4 linked regions of the Homo sapiens genome follow. The protein of the gene in region 4 interacts with the protein of the main gene of each other region in a pairwise test. Each region holds a gene or a part of one and is shown on either strand. Other genes may lie near its edges. The genes, in order: CWF19L2, SYT6, USP15 and MAD1L1.

Evidence for each region.
Region 1: the proteins of MAD1L1 (region 4) and CWF19L2 interact in binary tests that used the Homo sapiens proteins (3 or more experiments, as listed by UniProt).
Region 2: the proteins of MAD1L1 (region 4) and SYT6 interact in binary tests that used the Homo sapiens proteins (3 or more experiments, as listed by UniProt).
Region 3: the proteins of MAD1L1 (region 4) and USP15 interact in binary tests that used the Homo sapiens proteins (3 or more experiments, as listed by UniProt).

What each region holds. Positions count from the first base shown.
Region 1 is NC_000011.10:107,447,822-107,454,848, forward strand, and holds part of CWF19L2 (CWF19-like protein 2), read right to left. Parts: intron 6,752-7,027; coding exon 6,629-6,751; intron 1-6,628.
Region 2 is NC_000001.11:114,143,858-114,150,884, reverse strand, and holds part of SYT6 (synaptotagmin-6), read left to right. Parts: intron 1-7,027.
Region 3 is NC_000012.12:62,389,384-62,396,410, reverse strand, and holds part of USP15 (ubiquitin carboxyl-terminal hydrolase 15), read right to left. Parts: intron 6,981-7,027; coding exon 6,897-6,980; intron 6,807-6,896; coding exon 6,712-6,806; intron 6,629-6,711; exon of another isoform or gene 6,615-6,628; coding exon 6,423-6,614; intron 5,548-6,422; coding exon 5,432-5,547; intron 5,255-5,431; coding exon 4,982-5,254; intron 4,596-4,981; coding exon 4,525-4,595; intron 4,156-4,524; exon of another isoform or gene 4,140-4,155; coding exon 4,024-4,139; intron 3,359-4,023; coding exon 3,209-3,358; intron 117-3,208; coding exon 13-116; intron 1-12. UniProt on the Homo sapiens protein: Hydrolase that removes conjugated ubiquitin from target proteins and regulates various pathways such as the TGF-beta receptor signaling, NF-kappa-B and RNF41/NRDP1-PRKN pathways.
Region 4 is NC_000007.14:2,222,923-2,229,949, forward strand, and holds part of MAD1L1 (mitotic spindle assembly checkpoint protein MAD1), read right to left. Parts: intron 2,629-7,027; coding exon 2,488-2,628; intron 1-2,487. UniProt on the Homo sapiens protein: Component of the spindle-assembly checkpoint that prevents the onset of anaphase until all chromosomes are properly aligned at the metaphase plate.

The sequences.
Region 1 (7,027 bases), on a different chromosome or scaffold from region 4:
TTAATTGAAACAGAACAGGAAAAAACAAGAGAAAATGAAACAGCAAACCAAGACTTTAACACAGCTATCATAAATATGTTCAAGGAAGGGAAAATGTAAAGATAATGAGGAGATAAACTGAAAAACATTAGAAAGATCCAAACGAAACATCTAATGATAAAAAAAAAATACAGTACCTGAAATGAAAATGTCACTGGATAGGGATAACAGTAAGCTAGACACAGCAAAAGAAAAGGCCAGTCGGCCAGGCGCAGTGGCTCACACCTGTAATCCCAGCACTTTGGGAGGCTGAGGCAGGCAGATCACGAGGTCAGGAGATCCAGACCATCCTGGCCAACATGGTGAAACCCCATCTCCACTAAAAATACAAACAATTAGCTGGACGTGGTGATGAGCACCTGTAATCCCAACTACTCAGGAGGCTGAGGGACGAGAATCACTTCAACCCAGGAGGCGGAGGTTGCAGTGAGCTGAGATCACGCCACTGCACTCCCGCCTGGCAACAGAGCGAGACTCCGTCACAAAAAAAAAAAAAAAAAAAAAAAAAGGCCAGTAAACCTGAAGCTCACGACATAGCAATAAAATATACCCAACCCAAGGCATAGAAAGGAAAAAGGCTAGAAAGTAAGTGAACACAGGCTCATCAACCTGTGAGACATTATTTTAAGGAGACTACCAAAATGAGAGGGAACAGAAAAAAAAAATACTTCGAAAAAAGCCTGAAAGTTTCATATTTGATGGAAACTGTAAACTCACAAATCAAAGCAGCACAATGAACCTAAGGCAGATGCTACACTCTGAATGTTTGTGTCCCCCACCAAATTCTTATGTTGAGATCCTGACTCCCAAGACAATGATAATAGGGGCTGAGGCCTTTGGGAGATGACTGGGAATGGGATTAGTGCCCTTATAAAACATAGCCCAAGAGCACTCCCTTCTGCCATATGAGGTTAGAGTGAGAAGACAGCCATCTCTGAGGAACTGAACCCTCATCAGACACAAAGTCTACCAGCGCCTCGATCTTAGACTTTCTAGCCTCCCAAACTGTGAGAAATAAGTTTCTGTCATTTATAATCCACCCAGTTAGTTTTGGTATAGCAGCCCAAATGAACTAAGACAGTAGAATAAACACAAAGAAATCAATACCAAGACATATCACAATTGATTCACTGAAAAATAATGATGAAAAAAAAAGCCCTAAAAGCATCCAGAATAAAAAGGCACACTACATACAGAGAAAAAATATTACAATGACTACAGAGTTCTCAATATGTACAATGCAAACCAGAAGACAATGGGATGACATTTTACAGTGCAAAAAAAAAAAAAAAAAGAAAACACTATAAACTTAAAATTCTTTATCTAGCCAAGTATCTGAAAAATGAAGATTGCTAGTAGGAACTTCTGAGTTTGTGGTAAAAGAAAAAAAGAATGAAGATGAAATAAAAGAAATTTTCAAACAAAAGCTGAGAGAATACAATGTCTGCAAATCCATATTATAATACATGTTAATGAAAGTTCTACAGACAAAAGGAAAATGGTATTAGACAGAAATTCAGACCTACATAAAATAATAAAGAATATCAGAGATGATAAATCTGTGGGTAAATATAAAAGACTTTCTTCATATGTGTAACTTATTTAAAAGATAACTGACTAAAGTATAAATAAAAAGAATGTATGACATTAAAAATTATAAACAATGTGGGTTTATAACATATGTAGAAGTAAAATATATGACAACAATAGCAAAAAATATGGTAGGAGAAAATGGAAGTATATTTTGGTGAAAGTCTAATTATAAAAGTAAAATTATATATTATTTGAGAGTATGGTAAGTTAAAATATGCATAAGACTTAAAGCAGTCATTAAAAATAAATAAGGTATACCTAATAAGCCTACAGCAGATGAAATGGGATGCTAAAAAACACTCGATCCAAAAGACAGGAAAAGGAAGGAACAAAGGAAAAAAGAACAAAGAAAAAATAGAAAAGGAATAACAACATGGTAGACTTAAACTCATCCATATCAATTATTACATTAAACATAAATAATCCAAACCAGTACTATTCAAAGAATTTTTCTATATACTGTCGAATATAGTAGCCACATAAATTTGGCTGATATAATTTTAATGAATTTTAACAAAAAATTTAAAAGCCATAAACAGCTAACAGATTAGAGAGCACAAAAAACATCTAATTGAAAAGTAAGAGACGTGAGCCAAGATTGCGGCACTGCACTCCAGCCTGGGTGACAGTGTGAGACTCCATCTCAAGAAAAAAAAAAAAAAGGAAGAGGCCAGATGCAGTGGCTCACATTTGTAATTCCAGCACTTTGGGAGTCCCAGGTGGGAGGATTGCTTAAGGTCAAGACTTTGAGACCAGGCTGGGCAACATGGCAAAACCACATCTCTACAAAATATATATAGATCATAGGCTAGAATATAAAATGTCTCAAAAACTTTTTAACAACTGAAATTATACAGAGTACAATAAAATAATAATTAAATCCAAAGTCAATAACCAAAAAAACCTAATAAAATCCACAAATATCTGGAAATTTAAAAACTCATATATATATATCCTGGACGTCGAAGTGCACACCCGTAGTCCCAGCTTTCAAGAGGCTGAGGTGGGAGAGTCACTTGAGCCCCAGGGGTTGAAGCTGCAGTGATCTACTACACTCTAGCCTGGGCAACAAAGCAAGACTCTGTCAATCAATCAATAAATCAATCAATCAATAAAATAAAAAAGAAGAAATTGATAGGCGAGATAAAAAAGCAAGACCCAATTATACACTGCTTACAAGAAATACACTTTCAATATATAAAAAAGGTACATTAAAACTAAAAGAATTTTAAAAAGACGATGAAAACACACAAAAAAAGAAAACTGAAGAGGCTTTATTAATATGAGATACAAGAGACTTCAGACAAGAGTATTACCAAAGATAAAAACGAAAACTTCGTAACAACAGTCAGTTCATCAAGGAGCTGTCTATGTACCTAATAAAGCTTCAAAATTACATAAGGCAAAAACTGACAAAACTGAAAGCAGAAATAGGTAAAATCCACAAAACAATTAAGAGATTTCAATACTATTTTCTCAGTAACTGACTGAACAGGTGAACAGAAAATCATTAACACTAAACTTAATACTATTAGTCAACTTTCCCTAATTGACATTTATAAAACACTATACCTAACAATGGCAGAATACATACTCATTTCAAATACATATGGAATTTTCACCAAAATAGATCATAGGCTAGAAAATAAAATGTCTCAAAAACTTTTTAAAAACTGAAATTATACAGAGTATAACATAATAATTAAAATCAAAGTCAATAACCCAAAAAAAAACTAGAAAAATCCACAAATATCTGCAAGTTTAAAAACTCTTATATATCCATGAGTAAGAAAAAGTAAAGTAAAAAATATTTTGAATGGGACAGCAATGAAAATATAACATCAAAGTTACGTAGAGATACAACAGTGCTATGAGAAAATTTTATAAAATAAATACACGTTAGAAAAGATTTCAAATCAGTGGCGATACATTCATCTTAGAAAGTTAGAAAAAGAAGAGCAAATTAAACACAAAGTATTCGCAAAGAATAAATATAGTTTAAATCAATGAAATAGAAAACACACAACCAGAGAAAATTCAAGGAAACTAAAAGGCAATAAAGAAAGATTAATAAAACTGATAAGCCTCAAGACAGACTGACAGAGGAAACAAACAGAAAATAGAAATTACCAAAATCAGGGATGAAAGAGGGGTATCACTATGGATTCCGTAAACATTAAAAGAACAAAGGAAATATTACAAATAACTTTATGACAATAAATTTGACAATTTCTATGGAATAAATTCCCAGAAAAACCGAAATTACTAAAACTAACTCAAGAATAAACAGAAAGTATTTAACACAACTATTAAAGGAATTAACTCTGTCGTTAAACCCATTCCACAAAGAAACTCCAGGACCAAACCGTTTCACTGGCAAATTTTAACACTTATAGATGCAAAAAAAGCACTTACCAAATTCAATACTCATTCAAGATACAAACTCTCAGAAAACTAGAAATAAAATGTCATTTCCTTAATCTGAAAAGGCATACATGAAAGTCCCACAGCAGACATCATGCTTAAATGTAAAAACCTGAATGCTTTGCACCTAAGATAAGGAAAAAGGCAATCATGTCCACTCTCACCACTTCCATTCAACACTATTTTTAAGTCCTAGCTACTGAAATAAGGCAACAACAATTAACAAATAAAACAGGCACAGAGACTGAAAAGAAAAAAGTAAAAGTCTTTTTCACACATGACATACCATTTACCTAGAAATCCTAAGAAATCTACTAAAAAAGCTACTAACACTAGTATTAGTAATTTTAACATGGTGATAAGAGGCAAGGTGAATATATCAAAAGCAGGTTTTTTTTCACTTTTTTCTTTTTTTTCTGATCCTAATGTTTCAAGTCACTTCTATAATTACATACTAGCTGTAAACACATTTAATTTAAAATTCCACTCACGATAGCACTTCCAGAAAACAAAATGGAAAAAAAATAACAAACGACATGTAAGATCTCTACACTAAAAATTTCAGAACATTGTGAGAAAAATCAAAGACATAAATGGATAGAGAGATGTACCAAGTGCATAATGGATTGAAAGAATATTTTAACATATCTATCTCCCTAAATTCCTTCCAATAGGGAAAATTCAGCCTTTTCAACAAATGATGCTAGAAAAACTGGAAATCCACGTGGGAAAAAAATAAACTGACACTACACAACATAAATAAAAATTATTAATGGATTATAAATAAGCAAAAAAGCCAAAGCTATAAAACTTCTAGGGAAAAAAAATAGGAGGCCAAGCATGGTGGCTCACACCCGTAATCCCAGCACTTTGGAAGGCTGAGGCAGGAGATCACTAGAGCCCAGGAGTTCGAGACCAGCCTCGACAATATAGTAAGACTCCATGTCTACAAAAACAACTTTTCTGTACTACATCTGTAGTCATAGCTAATTGGGCTGCTAAGGCAGCAGGATTGCTTGAGCCCAGGAGTTTGAGGCTGCAATGAGCCATGATGGTGCCACTGCACTCCAGTCTGTGCAACATAGTGAGGCTCCATCTCTAAAAACAAACAAAAAACAAAAAAATTTAATAATAACATAAACATAGGAGAAATCACAATCTTGAGGTGCGCAAAAATTAGGATACCAGAAGCACTAAGAAAAAATGATGAAAAACAAAAAAGAAAATATTTAATAAATCAGATTTCACAAAGACATGGAATGCCCTATGGGGACTTAAAATGATGCTCTACATCCTTGTTCTTCAGAGAAATATCACACGAGACATTACACAGTAGAATAGCTAAAAATTACTAAGACTGACAATACCAAGTACTAGCAAGGATGTGGAATTCCTTGGTGACTCCTAGTGCTAAACTTGCCTCAGAGCCAATGGACAGGTGGTTGGGGGGCAACTGGTGCAGCTAAGGGAGTGCTTACACCACCTCTCCCCCAACCCAAGGCTGCACAATGTGCAGCTCCAAAAGAGACCCTGTCCTTCTGCTTGAGGAGAGGAGAGAGAAGAGTAAATACAGGACTCCATCTTGCATCTTGAATACCAGCTCAGCCATAGCTGGTAACCACTAAAGAGCCCTTAGGCCCTGAATAACCAGCACCAATAATCGGGTACTACACTGTGGCCTTCACTGTGTATCTGAGACTTGCTGGATTCAGGTGAGACTCAGCACATTCCCAGCTGTGGTGGCTATGGGGAGAGCCTCCTTCTGCTTGAGAAAAGTAAAGGGGGCTCTGTCTTGCGCCTTAGGTACCAGCTCAGCCACAGGGTGGTAGAACACCAAGAGGGATCTTGGGGTCTCCAGCCCCACGCCTTGGCTCTTGGATAGCATTTCTGGATCTGCCCTGGCCCAGGGGGTGCCCACTGCCCTGAAGGGTGAGTCCCAGGCCGGGCAGCTGACTGAAGAGTTCTTGGGCCTTAAGGGAACATCAGTGGTAGCCTGCCAGTACTACCTGTGGGTCTATGGTGGTGGCTACAGGGTGAGGCCCCTCTGCCTGTGAAAAGGGAAGAGTGGGAAGGACTGCCATTCATAGGTTGAATGCCAGCTCAGCCACAGTTCAATAGAACACCAGGTACAAGTCTAAGGTTTTTGACGCCAGTACCTGGGTCCCTGATGGCACCTCTGGACCCACCCTCAGGCCTGGGGGAACTTGCCACCCTGAAGGGAAAGACGCAGGCCTGGCTGGCTTCATCACCTGCTGATTGCAGAGCCCCAGGGCCTTGAGTGAACACCAGCTGTAGCCAGGTAATTGTTACAGCAGGCCTTGGGCAAGATCCAGTGCTGTGCTTAGCAATAATTCCCAAATCATATCCCTATCCTCTTAGCCTTTCTCTGAAATTCAAGATCAACATTTCCAATATTTTCTGGACATCTCTAAGTAGATGTATCCCAGATATTTTCATATCATAACTAGTAATATATTTTTTACGTTTTCTTGTATTTTAACTTCCCATAAGTTACACATTCAAATAAAATGTTCTCAAATAGCTGCTTTGATTAATTTTAGTACATACTTACTGATGAGCTATCAGATGACTCATTGTTTTTTTCATATTTCTGTTTCTTGCTCTTTTTTTTCTTTTCTTTCTTTGCTTTTTTTGAATGCTTGTCTTTTTTCTTCTTTTTCTTCACAGAGTGTTCCTACAATCATTTTGAACAGGCAAGAAAATAATTTAATTTCATCTTAATTTAAAAGGATGTATTCTGAGAGAAAAAAAATAAACCACATTCTAAAAAACTTTCAATCTCTGATGAAATAAGACCAAGAATATGTCTAAATAAATAAAATCTTTCAGGAAATCTTAACACACCTTCTATAATATATGCACTATCAATAAATCATATAACTGAGACTTCTTACCAGAAAAATACTGGGAAAATTTTGGCTTTATTTGTAGATTAATGTGACAAATATAA
Region 2 (7,027 bases), on a different chromosome or scaffold from region 4:
CTGTGCTAGGAATTGCACAGGAAGTCTCAGTTAATCAGACCCTGACTTGGAAACACCTGTACACAAACTGTCCAAACTAAAAGCAAGTTTCCCCTTTTTCTTTAAAAACTCTGAAGCCATAGGCCTGCTATTCTCCTTAATACACCCCAAGTGAACACTAATAAGCAGTTCTCCACCTTTCATTGTGTCATTTGCCTTGTAGAAATGAATGAACTTTTTCCATAAGCCAAGCTGCAGAGGTTTAGGTATGGTCAGCATGGGTTCTGGACTTAAGGTAGCAAGCAGAGGTCCAGAAGTGCTCCAGCAAATGCAGAAACCTGACAGGAGACCTCAAGCTTCCCTGTTTTTCTTAGGCTGGCAGCCGGGAGTGGTTAACTCCAGTTTACTTGTGGCCATGAAATTTATGTGATGTTTGTCCTTCTCACTGGAAGGATGGAATTCTGCAGATTTTGCCCTTTTTGAGGAAAGGTACAATGCACAATCCTTTAGAACCCAAGGAGATGATATTCTGACTAGTGTGTTTTGAGCTTTAGAGTTCTAGAAGCAGGGTCCAGTATCTAAGAGTTGTAGAGCCCTTAGATTTATAGTTCTAGAAGTTTTCTTCTCCCTCTGACTTTGATGAGAACGTCAAGTAGGGATGGTGGTTTCAGTATGTGTCATCCCTCTAAGCTCTGTACAAAAGACATGTTCTCTTCTAACTGTCTGAAGTTTATCTTCCCTGTCCACAGAGTTAGGGGTATAACATGTGGCTGCAAATAGTGAGGAGTGGCATTGAGGCATCTGGATCAAACCAGGTTTCTTTATGGTCTGTATAGGGTTGTCTGGAGTGGGGAAAGCATGCTAAGACAAAGTTCCGACTAAACTGGGTGGCACCCTTTCTATTCTTGCTTAGGAAAAGAAGCCTCTAAGGACTGAGTCACACTTAGGAACTGAAATCAGAGGAGTCTCTGAAAGTAGAAATAAACAGGGGCATCCAGATCTGGACCCTCCAAGTATAATGACACAACCTCATCCCTCCCTTCTTTCTTCTAGGAGCACTGAACTCTTTCTTGCTCCCCGAGGACCCAGGCAGACCCCTCCTCTCACTAGTTGCAGGTACAAACAGGGAGAGAAGCATAGAGGGAAAAGAATTTCTGGCTGTCTGCCCTCCACCTCCATCACTCCAGCCTTGATCCCACATTCAGAAGGGCCACATGCCCTGACCCCTCAAGCAGAAAGGTACAGTTACCATCCACCAAACTAATAATATTAATAATTGTTAAATTAGTGCCAATGTTCTGTTAGCTGTAACACTCCACATTAGTCTCCGATTTAGCTCTGAATCCCCTAATGATGGTGGAAGTGAGCGCCCAGTCATAAAGCTTGGTGCGGCCGTAATTAGCTTGGCATTGTCTCTCCTCATCACAGCTTTTTCAGGAGCATTAATTCCTTCTCTGTTTGGACTCTGCTAATTATCCCCATTGGTAGCTCAGTCTGGATCTCTGAAAGAAGCAAAGGAAGCAAAAGCCCTCTGCTCCCCTCCCCCCAGCCCTGAATTTTAATTACACCGGTTCTCCTAATAAACTTACAAGCCCTGGCAGAGCTTATTATTAATTATTAATGGGCCACGTCTGAGCCTCAGTACAGAATAGCTCTGTTCTCCCAACACACACACACACACACACACAATCTCTCTCTCTCTCTCTCTCTCAGATATTCCTCAGGTACACCTTTTCCAGAGGCCACTGGTTACTTGCCTGGTGGCTGGTGGGCAACCTGAAGTGTCAGCTTTCCAGGGAAGAAGATGGGGCAGGTGGTCACCAGGCTGGTCATAATCTGAGTCTCTGGGGCTCTGTCCAGGTTCATAGGGTCAGGCCAAAAAGTGGGAGTATCCCTCCCATCCTCTCCTGAGTACAACTAAGAAATGCCTGCCCCCACTCCAACTTCTCTGTCCAGCCTGGGACTCCACAGCTCAATCTGTAGTCCTCCCAGATACGTGATTCAAGAGCCCAGATTTGGGCATCAGCAAGTCCTAGGTTCAAATCCCAGCTCTTCTCCTTAATGCACTGTACCCTTGAACAAGTTACCTGGTTAACATCTCTATGCTTAGTTTCTTTATCTTTAAGGGTGTATACCAATTTCTTAGGGAGGCTAGAAAGGTTAAATTAGATAATGTAAAGGGCATAATGCTCACTATGTATTAATAAATAAATAAATAAATAAATAAATAAATAAATGATATTATTAGTATTTTATGAGTGGTTCTGCCCAGAATCTCTTCTCTTCCCAGGCTAAACGCTCTTCTTCCAAGCTCCTGGGCCTCTGCGTCACTTGCTCCCTGGCCTCTGGGCTGTGCTTTGTCTATGTCTCTGTCTGTGTCTGCACGAGAGCTCCTTGGCCGAGGCAGCTCCTGCTCTCCCCAGCCTGAGCACTGACCGTTTCTGAGGGTCCACCACCAATTCCAGGCCCTGAAGCCAGCCTTCTCTGGCTTTGGGGTGAGTAGGGAAAATGGTTCTTTCTTTTTGCTTCCTCTTCCCAGTTTATCTCTTCAATTACAATCTGTTAGCAAGAACGCCTGTTACTGTTACAAAATGGATTTTTCTGATGTGGGAGCCCATTAGAAAAATGGGAACAATAGCAAGCAATAAGAATTGCTGATGAATTCTAACACTATGGGTGGAGAAGAGGGGAGGGGGCACTAGGGCTGTCTTTGGAGAAAGAAGTGTCAGTGGGGGAAGATAAGAAAGCCCTGAGCTGCTATTTAATAACCCAGCATTTTCTGGAAGAGGAGGGAGACCATGGGCCATCACCCCAACCAGACAGTCTCATTTAAGGTGACAAGCAGATCCTATCCTGATGGCCTTGAAGGGGATCTCAACTTCCCAGGAGAGAAGAGGGGCCTGACGTCCCTCAGATTCTTTGTCCTCTGATCTGGAGTCTCCCTTCCCTGCCTCAAAGACTTAGCTTAGCTTTGTGTCTGTTCTGTATACACAGTCAACTGTTATCCTCCACCAAAAAACAAAACATGAAGAATAACAGCAGCTTACATTTTGGGGACATTCACTGTGTACCAGGGCCTGTGCTCAAAGTCTTAGCTTATTTAATATTCACAATGATTCTGCAAAGTAGGAATAATTCGAATCCTGACTAAATAAAAGAGAAAACTAAGATTTGGACAGGTTAAATAACTTGCTCAAGGTCACGCAATTAGAAAGCAATGAAGATGATACATGCTGTGCTGTCGGTCATTCTGGCACTGCCGCCCACCTGAGATGTCCATCCTGTGTCTGAGCACCTGTGAGTTCAGTTTCACAGCCAGGGCTAGAAGCCATGTGCCCCTGTACAAGGCTATGTCACTGGGGTGTGATCCCAAAGCCTAGTTCCATAGCTGTTTTCTCTCCCATGAGACTGCTGGAGAGTTGGCTACTATGGTTTACCAAATCAGGTGCCCATGAAATACTAGAGCTCCTCTGATGCCTGAATGAAAACATTTTACAATGAATATTGAGCAATAGGCTTCTTTTCCCCAAATTTCAAGAAATTTTTCAAGAACATAGGATGTTCTCAATTATAGGTTTTTCTTCCATGATCTTCTTCTTACTTCTTTGGAATTCATTCCTGTTCACCAGCTGGCTGGTGATGGTAACAACAAAACAACTGAGGAGGCAGCAAGCAAATGAGTATTAGCAGGAAAAGCCTGGAGATGTGTGATCTGAACCATAGTTTGTGTTACGTCTCAAGATACAGACGGACCTGGCTATGTCCAAAACCATTATATTATTTCTGCTAGTAAGATTGTTCTTGGTTTGTAAAGACAAGGTTAAAGCTATCTCTGTTGATTAATGTTCAATGGTTTTCAGGTGTTCTGCCCATTAAACAAATTTCAAAACTAAGGACTGTTTCAAATTGGGCTGGGCATAACTAATTCTAATAAAAATAGGTGATATTTATTATATTGCTTATTACATCTTAGGCACTATCCTCAACAGTTTTGGTCTCATTTAAACCTCACAATGACCCTAAAGGTAGATACTATTATTACCCCCAATTTATAGATGAGGAAACTGAGGCTGAGAAGTGTTACATAGTTTGCCAAGGTCACAGTTTAAAACTAGTAGAGGTAGACTGTTAGTGAGGCCAGTCTGACTTCAGGGCAATGCTTCCTTCTCTCTAAGCTGAAGAAGAAGTAAAGAAGAAGACAGGGAAGAAGCATCCAAATACCTAGGAGGTACTTTCTCTTTTTCAGTGCTGGGCTGAGCCCTCTCTCCCTTACTGGAGGCTTACTTCTAGCTTTTCCTGAAGTGAACGTGTGGTGTAAATTGGAAGAGCACTGGATCAGGACTCAGAAACTGGCAGAGTTGCCCATCAAAGTTCTAGCTGCCTCAAGGGGTCAAAGTTCAAACAAGATGTGAATGGGAAAAGGGTTTTGAAGGCTATTTGTGCACCTGTGATTTCCTAGGGGACATGTCCCAGTGGGTTGGCCCCAGCAAGCCCAGAGTGGGAAGGCATACAGCTTAGGTTATCTGGGCCTTTATGCAGCCCTTAGGCTGTACAGAAGCCTACAGCCCTTTCTAATCTCAATGTAACTTAAACTAGGAGATGAGGGATGTCTGAGTTCAAGGCCACATACAGTGATTTTAAATGAGCTGAATCTTCTACAGTCACCTCCTCCCTGCTGCCTGCTTCTGGTCTTACTAGCCTTGCTCACCAACCTTGCATCTCCTGTGAAGACAAACCCACTCAGTGTTTGAGACCTAATTCTCCTTGCACTGCCTGCCAGTGAGATGTCAAAAGCCCAGGCTCCTCTAGTCCTGCAATAAGATTCTTCAGGCATAGGACGGGCCTCCTGGTCTCATATAACCAGTATTGAGTGCTGGGTGCTGATTCCAAAAAACCATGCCCTCTGCCTCCCCTAATCACAGCTCTGAGGGAACAGCAGCTGGGGGTCACATGGAGAGGCAATCTAAATAGCAACCACACCAAGGAAAACCTCATTGTCCTGCCCCACCCCCTTCTCCTACCTCTCTTTTCATTTACGAATTCAATTATTTGTCAGGCTGAACATTTAAATGCACTCTATGCTCTCTAGATTCCCCCTACTCCCCTTCTCATTAAAATTCTAATTATTACCAGAACAAGTAAGATGTATGATCAAAGGAAAGCAAAGCCCTAGAAACACCTTTTGTTTTGAGGTGACTCATATTGCAGAGAATGCATCCAGAACAGCTGTAACAGAGAACAGATGTGAAGGGCTAGAGATGGCCAGATATGTAGAATAAGGACACATATAGCTGTGGTGACTTCCCTGGTGAGCCCACTAGGATAAAGACCTGAAGAAAGAGTCTCCAAATTATTTAGATCATGAACTCATAACAGGTTAAAAAAAAAAAAAAAAAAAAAAAACTTAATACCTCCAATATATGTTTTTTTGTTCCCAAGTTACATACATGTTCCACAGAGGTGATACTTCAGAACCAGACTGGCTGGGTTGTAGCCCAGTTTCACCACCCACTAGTTGTGTGACCTGGGAAATCTATTTAACCTTCTGTGCCTCAGTTTCCACATCTGCAAAATGAGGATAATAATCATACCTTTTTCATTGGAGAGGATTAAATGAGTGAATAGATATAAAGCTCTTTGAACCTTAGACATAGTAATGTTGAATAAATTGCCTAAATCTAATAACATGCTATTATTCCTATCAACCTGTATATTAAAAATTTGATTTCTTTTAAAGATTATAAATATTAAAATGGCTTGGTTTTTTTCTCTTGTGTCCACCTGCCCCGAGCTTCACCCCATTGGAGACACCACCACATTGGAGACCTTTAGTATAGAAGTTGACTTAGAATGAGCTTTCCCGGTGTCTGGCAGTCTCCAGGTGAAGGACTACCTCCAGCTCCTTTGGCCAGGGAAAGGCTCTAATGTCCCTGTGCAGGGAGCCAGGTGTTGGGAAGGCTTGGGAAGGGGGTGGTGGTAGGTGGCTCAGGACTTGAGGATTCTCTGCTATTATTACCTATTCTCGGAGGTGATAACTGATCTAGGCAAGTAACTTGCAGCAAAGGAATCAAAAGGCAGTGCTGGCTTCCCAGAGAGAGTGGCTGATATCCTCAACTCCTTCTTGGCCCCTGATGTGGGATCTCTTTCCCTGGAGCCTATGTGCTGTGGGAGTACCTGGATCCCCTTAGCAGGGGACTGGGCATTCAAGCCTTGCTCAGAACTTGGCACATGGCAAGTACTCAGTAAATGTTGCTTGACCTTAATTGAAATGAGAGCTAATTACAGCCTTCTCATACATCATTCTTTCAGTCACTCATTCATTCCATGTGCCAGTTTCTATGTGAGGCCCTGAATCAGACAAAGAGGAAAAACACGTGTCATAGTAGCCTACAGTTTAACCAGAGACAGACAGGTCAGGGCAGAGGAAAGAGTGCCAGCCTGGGTGGTGGACATCTGGACCCTAGTCCAGGTTCTGTGTCTGACCAACCTGTGACTCCAAGCAAGTCCCTTCTGTGAACCACTGCTGCCATCTTTAAAGGCACAGCCTGGCCTCACTACTTGTGGGGTCATTTCTTACCTTAAATAGTAAGATTTTTAAGGCATTTGGACAGGCTAATACAGAGGCTTCAAACTTACAAGCTTTCAGGGGCCAGACAGGGAACAGGAAGTGGAGGGTTGAGCTGGTGAGGACATATCCTTACAAAGAGAGTCACCAGTTCCCACCATGTGGGAGCCCATGTTCAATTACCAAGTCATTGGTCTTTTCCAGTGAATTCAGAAGTCTGGGGTGACGATGATGATGGAATTTCTTAACGTTTCAATCATTAAGCAAGCCAAACAAAACTCTTCTGCTAGTTTGTCCACAGTAACCTTTTTGCAAACCCTGCAAAGTATGCCCTTGGTTCAGAGCCTTCTAACTTCTCTACTCCGAGCAAGAAGAGGCCTTGGGCTCAAAGGTTCATTCCCAAATTTGGAGAGGGAAGTGGGATGGGAGGTCTGCTTAATAATTTCTCACAAAGAGGGGCATCCCTCATAGGGGCATACCCCT
Region 3 (7,027 bases), on a different chromosome or scaffold from region 4:
CTGTCAACTTACAGTGTCCTCCTCCCATCCCTCCATAGTGGTTGGAAACAGCAATCAGATTATAGCGGCAAGGACCTGCATTTGGATTAATTAAGAATTCCGACATATCCAAGTCACTGTTTAAAAAAGAAACCAAGTTAATTTTTATGTTGTCCCTAAATGCAATGAATTCTATTCCCTTCTGCCATTGTTGTTTGACATACATATATATATCTATATCTATCCATCTATATATATCTATCTATATATATATATATCTCACTAAGGAAATTATCATGAGTCAAATAACTTACAAAACAAATCATACATGTACCTCTGAGATATTAATGTTTTGGCAAACATTTGTTTATGGGTTGAAAATTTTAAAATGCTTCATTGAGTATACTGAAGAGATATCTGCACTCCCCATGTTTGTCGCAGCAATGGTCACAACAGCTAACATTTGGAAACAACCAAATCTTGTTGATTTGACGAAACTATGTGTTGCAATGTTGATGGAACTAAGTGTCTATCAACAGATAAATGGCTAAAGAAAATCTGGTACATATACACAATGAAGTACTATTCAGCTATAAAAAGGAATGAGATCCTGCCATTTCCAACAACATGGATGGAACTGGAGATTATGTTAAATCAAATAAGCCAGGCACAGAAAGACAAACATCCCATGTTCTCATTTGTGGGATCTAAAAATAAAAAAAAATTGAGCTCATAGACAGACAGAGTAGAAGGATGATTACTAGAGGATGACAAGTGTGGTGGGAAGGTAGGGGAGATGTAAGGTGGGGATGGTTAACGGGTTAAAAAAAAAAACGAATGAATAAAACATACTATTTGATCACACAACAGGGTGACTATAGTCAATAATAACTTAATTATACATTTAAAAATAACTAAGAGTGTGACTGGATTATAACACAAACGATAAACGCTTGAGAGGATGGATACCCCATTCTCCATAATGTGACTATTTCACACTCCATCAAAACATCTCATGTACCCCACAAATATATACACCTACTATGTACCCACAAAAATAAAAAAATAAAATAAAATAAAAATGTGGAATGTTGTCATTCAGATAAACGTTTTCATGCTAACACATTTAACTCTCAGTATACCAGGAAAAACAGTCATCACTATTGACCATCTGGGTCCAGTAGATCTTTATTTTACAGTCAATTTTAGAAAGTAATTTATGGGCAGGGTCAGAGATTAAAAAAGAGGAAGTGATTTATATGAAGAAAAATACAGGAATAGTGAAAACTTCCTTAGAAGTTTTAAAAAATATTAATATATCAAACCTTAATTTTTATTCTACATTTGCTGTCTTTGATGACCTATATACCCGAAATGGGCAACATCCTTTGAATGTAACTGACTAATCAAAATCTATCATTCAAGAACCTGGAAAACGACTTCTTGTAAATAGCTTATTATTATTTCTGGTTGTTCTTCTTGTATTTGCATCATTAAAAAGCAATAATGATTCTAAATTTTAAATACATCTCTGATAGATTCTAGTTTGTCATTACTTCTGATTCTTTTTTTTTTTTTTTGAGAGGGAGTCTCGCTCTGTCGCCAGGCAGCCTGGAGTGCAGTGGCGCGATCTCAGCTCACTGAAATCTCCGCCTCCTGGGTTCAAGCGATTCCCCTGCCTTAGCCTCCCGAGTAGCTGGGACTACAGGCGCGCACAACCATGCCCGGCTAATGTTTTTGAATTTTGGTAGAGATGGGGTTTCACCACGTTGGCTAGGATAGTCTTGCTCTCCTGACCTTGTGATCCACCCACCTCGGCCTCCCAAAGTGCTGGGATTACAGGCGTGAGCCACTGTGCCCAGCCCTGATTCTTTTTCTTATACTTACATTGCCAAATGCTATATTCTTGAAAACTTATGGCTCACTATTTTGTTAAAGAGAAAATGATCTTTTTTTCACTCAATAATTACAAATAATTTTAAATTTTAAATTTATAGCCACCAATTAGAATGAGTAATCCAGTGAATATTTTGTTTTATGTAATCTATTTCCTTCTAGTTACCTTTATAGATACACCTGCCTTTAGCAATTGTCTACTTACTAACTGTATCAAGTACATTTTGGTGTACAAATATCACAGGATATGAAATAATACCGCTGAAAGTTCTTTTTGCAAAATGGGATAGTACCAAGTACTTGTACAAAATATTGTGTGATGAAGTCCTTCTGCTGAATAACTAAGTGACGGGGAATACAATGTTCCCTTTTTGTCATTCTGAATTCTCAACTGTTAAAAGCAGGGGAAGAAAAAAAGAGAGATAAAGTGTGAAGATGTATACAGACTTCTTTGTATCTTTTTACAGACAAGATCAGGGTACGTTCAAGGTGGTATGGCCATAGATATATCTTTTTACAAATATGATGTCATATAATGGCAATAGGAAAACTGAAGGATAATGCAATAGGGATGATTTATTTCACTACTGTGTTATCCTTCTAAGCAATTCCATTGTTGTTTTATTTTAGTCTTTTTGAAAACAGCATATTTAGGGCTGGGCACAGTGGCTCATGCCTGTAATCCCAGCACTTTGGGAGGCCAAGGCGGGTGGATCACTTGAGGTCAGGAGTTCGAGACCAGCCTGGTCAATATGGTGAAACCTCGTCTGTACTAAAAATTAGCCGGGCATGATGGCGGGTGGCTATAATCCCAGTTACTTGGAAGGCTGAGGCAGGAGAATCACCTGAATCCAGGAGGTGGAGGTTGCAGTGAGCCGAGATTGCACCATTGCACTCCAGCCTGGGCAACAGAGTGAGACCCTGTCTCAAAAAACAAACAAAAGAAACACCAAAAAACCCCAACATATTTAGGAGTAAGTGATGAGTAATGATGAAGTAATTCCTAGGATAAACAAAATCACTAAGTACCATAAAGTATCTTAGATTTATAAATGAGACCAATTAACCCATAGGTAATATAACACAGAAGGATTTTTATTGTTTTTATTTTTTTAAAGTATATTTTCTCTTTGATCTTTGGAAAATCTCTAAGAAAAAATAAAAATTTTGAAACACTGATCCTTATAAACTGTTAGAACTACTCAAAAACAAACTTGAAAGCTGAAATTGGGTCCAATGGCACCTGATGTTTACTAAAGGATAATAACAAAAAGCATCAAATAAGTTTGAAAGAAGAGTTGCCCAATGCTTATAAAGTACAATTAAAGCTTACTTGATAGGAAAATCAACTAAGGTATCCAACTTGTCTCTCATGTATCGACTGTAAGAAAATCGCTTGAGATGTACTACAAGTACTGGAGGCAGGGACCATAAATCCAATTTCTTTGTGGCTTGCTGATGTTCTTTACAATTCGGACAATACCTAAGAATAAACAGAAGTATTTAACACTTGATAGAGGTACAAACAACCCCCATTAATGAAAATAATAAACAAAAATGTTTGGAAAGTTCTACATTTATTCAGTGGGCAATTATAGTATGCCTAATATGTACCAGGTTGAAAGCAACTCTTATTATTTTTATTTTCAAGACATTTTCCAAATAGGTTAAACCATTACAAATTAATATACAAATAAATACTTAAAGACATAATGAGGGCTAGATTATTTCTCTTTTAGTATGCAAAAAAGACATAGGTCACAAATCTGTGCTGGAAGACAGGTATTAGAAAATCTCAAATCTGGGCTCTAATGGAATAACACCACAAAATATATCACTACATTTTTCCTAAAAAGCTTCTCTCAAAATGATTACATAGCTAAAATTTCTTGGAAAAAAGGTAACTAAAATGAATTAATAGTATAATGGCTATTATGAAAAACACAGTAATAAAATTAAGGCAACACTGTAATCGTATTTTTTAAGACATTCCCATCCCTCTTAATAGGCTACAACTTATATAAAGAATCCTTTACTATTTAAAACATCAAAGAGAATTTAGTAATTACTTTTTCAACTTGATGTGGCACATATCTCAGAATAAATCCTTAAAGAAAACAAAAACAATTATTTAATTTTGTCTCTTACCAGGGATCTTCAGCACCTAGCTTTTCTTTTGTTGTAAAAAGTTCAATGCAATCTTTTAATTTCACAAAGGGTTTTTTAGGAGGTTTATACTCCACACTTTCATGTTTTTCAAAGTCCTAAAGAGAAGTATTTCTTGAGTTAAGAGAACAAATGAAACAAAACTCATTTTAGTGATACCATCTTACTATGAATAATAATGAAAACTCCTAAACTTTCTCAAAAGAATCATAAAGCTTATTTCAGTTGAGATTTATATACTTCTAAATAATTCCTGTACACTTCTATATGGATGACCAAAACACGTTCAAAATGAACTCTGAACCTTTAAAAAAAAAAGGTATTTTTGCAAAGACTTTTTTTTCTAGTTCATGACCAATTTTTTACTGGCAAAATAAACATATTTGGTGGAAGCAAAGAGTGTAACACAACAGTATGATTATCTCTGGTAATCACATAAAGTAAATCAAGGAAAGGTAAATAAGTGAGTGAGTGATGACTTACCTCAGCAGCATTTTCATCAAAATATCTTTTTTTCAAATCAGGATCCCAATCCAAAGCAAGAAAAGATCTTTCTAAGGTGGAAAACATATTTTTTCTTTAAAATTTAATATGTCTTAGTATTAAAGTATATTTTAATGTTAGGATATACACCAGAATAAACAAACAGCAATCTTTTCTACTTGTACTGGTGATTAGGGCAAACAGCAGTTTCCAAGCCATTGAAATAATTTAAGAGTTTAAAAAAAGATAGAAAACTGAAGCATGAGTTCAATCTCCATTTATGAAACACAAACACACATTTTAGTCTACTTAGATATTAAGTCCTTTCATGTAAAATTTGAGATAGAAAAGTAAATGGTATATTTCTTGACAGAGCTGAATTTCATGGTTTTCACCTAAAAAAAAAATAACATGCTCGGCTTGTTTAATGTTCAAGCCATTTTTCACAAATACTTACCATCTAGCCTAAGCTGCCTATCATCAAATCTTATATGCCTGGTATCATCTTTGATGTAGTTGATATCAGTATTGCCTAAGTTGTTGAACTGGAATGTAAACAATCGTTTTTTGTGTCCCGTGAGTTGACCTTTGCAAGTATCCTCAGTACATAATCCATTTTCAGAATCATTATCTCCTCCAACTGAATCTTCAGACTGACTGTTTTCATTCTCTGAGGGAAGTTCTTGATCCTGGCTGGATTCATCATCTGGCTCATCTGTTTCCATTTCACCTAATTTTAGATATTAGAGAGCTTTAAATAAACCCAATGCTATATTTTTAAATTATTAATATTATTAATCCTAGGTTTCCAGGTATTTTTTAGTTCTTTAATTCCCATTTTCTTAACTTTTTCTCTGAGGCAATTATCTAAGTGAAACATTTGTACAATTTAACAGAAAAGTCTTACTTGGTGAGCCTTCTTCATGTATGCCATTTGGGCCATTCCCATTAATATTTTGGTCCTTACAGCAGTGTAGGGATCCTTCAGTTTCTTCAGTTTCAGTAGATATTTTGACATATCGGCTTAAGTAAAATCAAAAATCAAACAAGTTCAGTACTACAAAGATAAAAACTTTTAAAAAGTTTTCCTTCTATCAGTAAAACAAAACTTTTTAATGCAGTAACAGTGGTCACTTAGTAGATTCAAAGATAAATTCAAACTTTTAGTACCATAAGTATAACTGACTAGTAATTTGTTTTGCTCATCTTTATAAAAATAATTAATATGTTACCTTTTAGGTTAAATGTTAAATGTTTGTTGCAAATAATTTCTCAACTTACCCTATTTAGATGGTATATATTGTTGCTAAAAACACTTATATTTGTATAATGTGATCTTTATATATGGGTTATGAAACTATAATAATTAGATATGCAAGAAAGAATACTAAATATACCAGCTTTCAAGGATAAAAGGGATCAAATGACATTCTTGATAACTTCATAATTCAAATCAAGGGATTTATTCAGGAAGGCAAAAAATAGGCTGCCTTACAATACTATTAATCATGAACTGGTAATGTATATAAAGAAATGAAGCATTTGACATTTGTTATTTCACAGTGCAAACATATGGCATTTGACATTTGTTATGATTTCACAGAATGAACATGTAACACATAATTATTATAACATAAATTCCTATGTCCTTCTAACTGTAAACTTTTGGTTTAAAACTGCTACAGACTTCGTGCTTCCTGGGTTTGAAATTACCTCCATAATATGTTTTACATGAATAAGAAAGTGGATTAGGACTATAATCTGACTATGAACAAAATTGAGATAATACAGACTTGAATAATTATATTCCAATAGTACCTTATGTGTTTATTTTTATTAGCTATTTTATATTTTATTCCCATATTTATTTTGTCAATGTAGAATTGTCTGGCACTTACCACATTCTCAAGAGCAGGAGATTATAAAGTTTGTCTTCAGTATTGTTTCGTGGTACAGCCATAAGAAAGGGCTGACCAAAAAGTGAAGAACCAGTATGGTGGGTATAACTCGAGTGTCTGAATTTTTCTCTTAGGCAAACAGGAATAATCACGTGCTCTGTATCTTCTGTCCTATTGATGTTAATTTCAAACCTACAAGGACAAAACTGACCATAAACTCTCAAAATTTTATGTTACTTCTATTAATTTTTTTTCAAGTAATATTTTGCACAATGAGTTTTATACTTACACATAAATATCATCCCGTTCCATAATACTACTAAGGTTTTCATCCATAGCGAATATTCTGTGAAATCTATGATTGTATATATCAGTAACTATCATCTAAAAGGAAACGAATTTCTATTAAGCTGGTTTTACAGCACTGAGAAACTAAATACCAACTTATATACTTCAACCCCAGAAACATCTTACCTTATCTGCAGGTATTCCTGACAAAGCAGACAATGCTGTACAAAGATCTAATATGTTTCCAATTTTGGGGACAACCACTTTGTACTAAAAAACAAAAAAAATTGTAATGAATTTATTATTTTGGAAAAAAA
Region 4 (7,027 bases):
AGCGTTGGCACCCCCGCTGTGGCACCATGACGGTGAGCACTGTGCGAGGTCAGGGCTCCCAGGAAGGGCACTTGGCACAGATCACACACACATTTATCACACCGTCTGCTCAGCAGTTGCCTCTGCAGGGAGAGGGGGCATGGGAAATCTAAAATTCAGCATTGACCTTGGGGAGAAGCTGAGCTTTCATAGCACCAGCAAATCCTGTCTAATTACGCTCTGTCCGGCACTGAAAGGAGCTGGCACTCCCCCAGCGAGCAGACAACAGGGGCAGAGACAGGCAGCGTGGACAGGAGGCTGTGGGCAGAAGCAGTTTACACTGGGCTCAAATCTGCCACACATGCACCCCCTCTCACACAAACCACAAACCTCCAGACCCACCCCCCACGACTGGCCTTAGGGAGGCCGCGTGGCTCTCACTGGTTGGGATGGGACATGACCAAGCACCACGCTCAGACCTCCTGACTCTAATGACCCGCAGGCCCTCCAGAGTTCACTGCCAGGTACCGGCGTCCCAGGAGGTGAAGGCGGTGAGTCCTGGTGGAGCCCGGCACTCCGGGACCCTCTCACCCTGCCTTCCTCGGGAAGCACCAAGCACTCCCGGAGCCCCGGGTGGAGTACGAGCTTGTGCTGTCCTCATCCAGGGTACTCCAGCCCAAAACCCAGGAGAGCTGTGACAGAGGTGGCCGCCTTCTGAGAGAGGCTGACCCGCGCACCTCGGAGGGACTCCAGCCCTTGTGAGCTGCAAGGGCTGCCTCACAACAACCAAGAGACCCTTCTGTGATGCAGGACAAGAACTGGGGTTGGCACGGGGCTCCGCTCAGCACCATCACAGCCAGATGCGGCACCGGGCCTGGAACTGCCAGTCCCAGCGCAGACAGGGCAGCCAGCAGGTCTTTGGACTTCAGACACTTAAGTCTCGCCCCTAATAGGTATTTCCAGGTGGAACTCCAAGGAACAATTGGAAAACTACTGGTTCTGACTGTTCCTGGGGTCCCATGCAGCTGTGTCTGCGGGCAAGGAAGGACAGTCCTGTTAGAAGGTGGCTGGAGCTCAGCAGGGAGCCCCAGGTGTAAGCCCAGTCACCTGCATCCTTGGATTTCCCCAAGACAGGGTTCCCGGAGACCCTACAATGACCCCTCCCTCAATCCAACATTTGTGAGCACCCATAAAATGCCATAAGCTGTGCCACACAATGGAGATCCTGGGCAGAGTCGGGTGGGCCCTGCCCTCAGGGACTCTCGGCCTAGAGGAACTCCAACAGCTGCACACTGTCCCTCCTGCCTGACAGCCACAGCCATACCATCAGCATGCTGCCTCCAGACCAATGACCTGGTGGCTCCTCTCCACCCCTAACAAGGGAATCTCAGTAGTTAGGGAGACTCCTGTGGACTCTCCCTCCCCTTCCCACCAATTCCTCCAGTACTGTCCCTCCTAGGACCCACCCAGGCCATGAGCAAACGCCCCACCTCTCAGGGAAAACAGCTCTCAAAGCAGCAACGGAGCCAACCCTGAGGCAGTGGCCCCCACCCCAGCGGTGCCTCAGTCTCACTGAGCCCACACAACGCACACCGCAGTCAGGATCTGCAGGCCAGGGGCAAGCAATCCAACCAGCATCACACCCCGGAAGACGTGAGCTATTTTTCTAGGGCCCAGGAGAGTGTGTGAATACACCGCATGATGTCAGGGCGGGGCTGGACATCCACCCGCCAAGAGAGGGCACGGAGGCCAGGGAGACTTTCCGCCCAATACTCTGCCTGAACCTTGGCAGCATTTCCACAACTGATCAGCACTGACTGAAACCCTGGCAAAGTGCTGTTAATCAGAGCAGAGGGGATCCGCGCACTCAGTGGAAACCTAATTCCCTCCCCAAGGACAGGGTGTTTTCCCTGCTGCCCTGGGGAGCCAGGAGCAACACAGAGCCGCCATTGAGACCGGCACCCTTTGCTAGGGCCCTCCAACCCCAAGACCCAGCATGGACCCGAGACCCTGATCCACCCCATGACCTCCTAAGCCTGTCACTCCTACACCACTTGGCATTTCTGCCAGACCTGCATTCCAATTCTTCCAGAGGGAAGAGGAAACCAGGAGACCCAGCAAAAGAATCTGTGCCAGCACCGCAGCCTCAATGAACAGACACAGCAAGTGTTCCCATTTCATGCCACCCTCCTCTAGGACATCAAGCATAACTGATACCTGCCCCACAGCATGAGTGGCCTCAGAAGGAATGTCCTGGCAACCATGACACAGGGCGTGTCAGGCTTCCAGCCAGCTGGGTTCTCATTTCCTACGGCCTGGCAGGTACCGTGCACAGCCCCCTTGCTCCCAGGGACTGGGATCTGATTTCTTAAGACCTGGCAGGTACCATGCACAGCCCCCTTGCTCCCAGGGACTAGGATGTGATTTCTTATAACCTGGCAGGTACCGTGCACAGCCCCCTTGCTTCCTGGGGCTGTCTGGGCCGACCCTCGCCCCGCCTGAACCCACCTCGTAGTTCCTGGCACTGGTGCTGGCTGCTCTCTCCAGCTCCACTCGAGCCCTCTTGTGACTCAGCTCCATCTGCATTTTCTCCCGCTCCACCTGGATGAGGTGGGACTTCGAACGGATCTGCTCTGCTCTTTCCTCCAGCTGAGCAGGTCGCACCCAAAGAAAAACAGAATCCTCAGTGACGGCATCAAACCAGGTGAGTGACTCAGTGCAGCAGACACACTCCCTGAGGACCCATTCCCGCAGGTCCCGTGCTAAGTCTTGATGTGGCCCAGCCACTGGGCTCCAGGCTGGGGAACAGGGGAGGGGCAGGAAACGGGAAGGTGAAAAAGCCTGGGAAGAGGAAGACGTCTTTTGAGATGACATTAAGCATATTAGTGAAGGCAACGGCCTCGAATGCCACCCATTTATTTACCAGCCAACGGCTCCGTGGGTCGGAAGTCCAGACGTAGGTGGCTGCATTCTCTGACCAGGGTCTCCCAGACTAAAAATCAATGCAGTCGGCCAGGACATGTTCTCACGTGGAGCTCAGAGATGGAGAATGAGGTCTCCTTCCCGACTGGCTGCCAGCCCAGTACAGCCATCAACTCCTAGGTGCTGCCCACATCCCTTGCCACACGGCCCTCTCCATCTCCAAAGTCAACCACGTCCAATCTCCCTCATCAAATCCCTCTCCTGCTATGTCTCTTGACTGCTCGGCCTCGGACGTCTGGACTCAGACTTAAAGGGCTCAGGTGAGTACATCAAGCCCACCAGGGAGTGGATCAAGCCCACCCACGTAATCTCCCTATCTCAAGGTCAACAGATCTTAGACCTTAATTACATCTGCACAATCCCACAGCAATGAAACCTACTCAGTATTGGACTGAAACCTGGGAGGCAGTAGGAAGGTGAGTGTGCACAAGGAGCCTGGAATCTGGGGGCCCTCTCAGAAGCCTGCCTACCACACAGGGTTAGTGATTACAGGTGAGCTGAGCCTCTGGGGGCCCTCTCAGAAGTCTGCCTGCCACACAGGACTAGTGATTACAGGTGAGCTGAGCTCCTGGGGGCCCTCTCAGAAGTCTGCCTACCACACAGGGCTAGTGATTACAGGTTAGCTGAGCCTCAAAGAGCCCCAGAAGACTTGCCAAATAGTTCCAGAGCCGGCCTTTGGGTACGACCTGCTCAGCTGGAGGAAAAGGCAGAGTCACTGACTCTTCACGTGGCCCAGAGCCTTGCAGTGCAGCATCTCCCGGCACTTAACAAATGCAGAGTCGCAGACTACACCCCAGACCTACTCAGTCAGAATCTTCTCTTTAGGTTGGGTGTGGTGGCTCACACCTGTAATCCCAGTACTTTGAGAGGCCAAGGCGGGTGGATCACTTGAGGCCAGGAGTTCAAGACCAGCCTGGCCAACATGGGGAAACCCCGTCTCTACTAAAAATACAAAAATTAGCTGGTCGTGGTGGTACGCACCTGTAACCCCAGCTACTCAGGCTGAGGCAGGAGAATCGCTTGAACCCAGGAGGCGAAGGTTGCAGTGAGCCAAGATCACACCACTGCATTCCAGCCTGGATGACAGGGCAAGAGTTCGTCTCAAAAAAAAAAAAACAAAAGAATCTAGGCCAGGCGTGGTGGCTCACGTCTGTAATCCCAGCAGTTCGGGGGGCCAAGGTGGGTACATAACTTGAGGTCAGGAGTTTGAGACCAGCCTGGCCAACATGGTGAAACCCTGTCTCTACTCAAAACTATGAAAATTAGCCGAGTGTGGTGGTAACGCACCTGTAATCTCAGCTACTCGGGAGGCTGAGGAGGGAGAATCACTTGAACCCAGGAGACGGAGGCTGCAGTGAGCCAACATTGTACCACTGCACTCCAGCCTGGATGACAGAGTAAGACCCTATCTCCAAAAGAAAAAAAGAAACTTCTTTTTAGACACATTCTCAGGGCGTTCACATGCACATGAAAGGTTGAGAAGCACCAGAGTAGAGTGGTGGTTCCCAGTGGGGTCCAGTTTTGCCCCTGGGAACATCTGGCCCTGTCTGGAGACACCTGATTGTCACAGGGGGGTGGTCACATGTGTCTGCTGCTGGCTGGCGTCCAGGGGGTAGAGGCCAGGGAAGTTGTTAAACAGCCCACAATGCACAAGAAAGTCCTGAGAAAAAAGAATTACCCAGCCCAAATGCCAAGCGTGCCAAGGCCAGGAAAGCCTGGGACAGGGGAGGGAAGTTTCTCTGTCCTCCCACCTGTGTTCTCTGGTGGCCCAAGCCCACACTTCCTTTACTCCTATGTTACTGTGTCTCGATTCTCAGCTGCTGCTGTTTGGGCGTTCCTAAGACTGCCCTTCAAACTCAGCAGCCTTCCTGGTCTCACTTCTGTGTCTGCAGTCAAGCCTGAGCCTCTCGAGAAGGGTGGGCACCCCGCCTGCAGGGGGCACGACCGGCAGGGACCAGGAGTCCCAGACACACCTGATCCGTGTGCCACCTCTGCCTGGAGCTGACTACAACGGAAAGAAAGGAACCCTGAAAGTTTACCCTTACGTTAAATCAACACGATGTGTGAGAAACCAGACAGCACACATTCCCCCGGCCTGCCATGTTCTCCAGGCCCTCCCTGCCACGCCGGGGGCTCAGCAGGAGAGAGAGAACCACGACGAAGTCCAGGAATGGGATGTGACAGGGGCCAGGGACCAAGGCTGGTCTTGCCGCCATCACTCCGCTCACCACCTTGCTCTGACTACCGCACTCCATCACTGATCCCCTCACCGAGAGGCCTTTACCAGTGAGCACTGGGGGCCTCCGAGCCCCAAGACAGACTCTAGAATCCCACAGCTTTGACAGACAGGCCAAGAGGTCCCAGACATTCGCAACACTAAAATCACAGCATTTCAGACCAGAGTTGCCAACTCTGTCACCCGGGCTGGAGTGCAGTGGCGCGATGGCTCACTGCAACCTCCGCCTCCCAGGTTCAAGCGATTCTCCTGCCTCAGCCTCCCGAGTAGGTGGGATTACAGGTGCCCACACCCGCCTAATTTTTGTATTTTTAGTAGAGATGAGGTCTTACCATGTTGGTCAGGCTGGTCTCAAATTCCTGACCTCAAGTGATCCAGCCACCTCAGCCTCCCAAAGTGCTGGGGTTATAGGCATGAGCCACTGCAACCAGCTCAGAGTTGGCCACTTCTCATTTTGTCAGTGATAAAAAACAACTACCATCTATTACCTTCATAATTTCACAAAAGAACATTTACATAAATATTATATATATACACACACACATATATATATATATGACCTAATCTCAGAATAAAAAACAGTCCTCATCAAGAAAGGGCAGTGAGCAAGCTAGCAACTAGCATTCTTTTTTTTTTTTTGAGACAGGGTCTCACTCTGTCACCCAGGCTGGAGTGCGGTGGCGCAATCTCAGCTCACTGCAAGCTCTGACTCCCGGGTTCACACCATTCTCCTGCTCCAGCCTCCCGAGTAGCTGGGACTACAGGTGCCACGCCCAGCTAATTTTTTGTATTTTTAGTAGAGACAGGGTTTCACCGTGTTAGCCAGGATGATCTTGATCTCCTGACCTCATGATCCGCCCACCTCAGCCTCCCAAAGTGCTGGGATTACAGGCCTGAGCCACCACATCTGGCCACAAGCTAGCATTCTAATAAACACACATTAATTCAATTATGCAACAAAACAAATGCACACGCACACACAGTTTAACCAAATGCAGCAGGGCCTCATCTGGGCTCTGAGAGCGCAGGAAGCCAGAGCCTCCTCTAATGCGGACAGAACTACAGAACGGCTCTGGGGACCGCAGCAGGGACTGGGAAAGAGGGTCCAGGCAGAGGAGCCTAGAGGAGCCTGCGCAGCCACAGGGCCCAGGCAAGGCTGGAGACACTACTAGCCAGCACTCCACTCCCCACCACTCCCTACAACTTGGGGGCCCCATTATCGCAGCCCCAACTGGGACTGGGCTCATCACTCTTTGGAGCCTGAAGTCCTTCAGGAGGCCTGAATCCTCTGCAGTTGTGTCTACAGTGAGAAACCCCAAGAACTTGTAATGAAACAAAATACAACTATTTTATAGAAGAAAACTGTAAAAATCACCCCAAAATCTGTAAATGGCCCTCCACAGTCTGAGACCACAAAACACCCAGTCCTTCTGCTCACTGCTGTGGCTTTGTCTCTGGGCTGCCCAGGCACTCTCAGCACTGTGTTTCCAACACAGCCTTCCCGACAGTCCTGGTGCTCACTCCCCCAGGCAGTTTGGGTTCTGTCCTCAATTAGATGAATGAACTGGCTTTCCGATCCTGTCACCAGGGTCTGTGAGTGCACTTGTGTGAACGCAATGCTGAGCGCCAGGCCCACTCAGGGCGCTAACAAGGCAGGCCTTTAAGCCAGGATGGCTCAGGGCCCCAACTAGCCTCCAGCTACGACCCCAAAATGAGGAGTGCCCATAGTGAGACCTGGGAGACGAATAGCTGTCTCTAGGCTCTGCTAATACCGACCCACCTCAACTACAGAAGACTGGAAGAGGTCCTGCCCGGGCCCAGGGTCTCCCC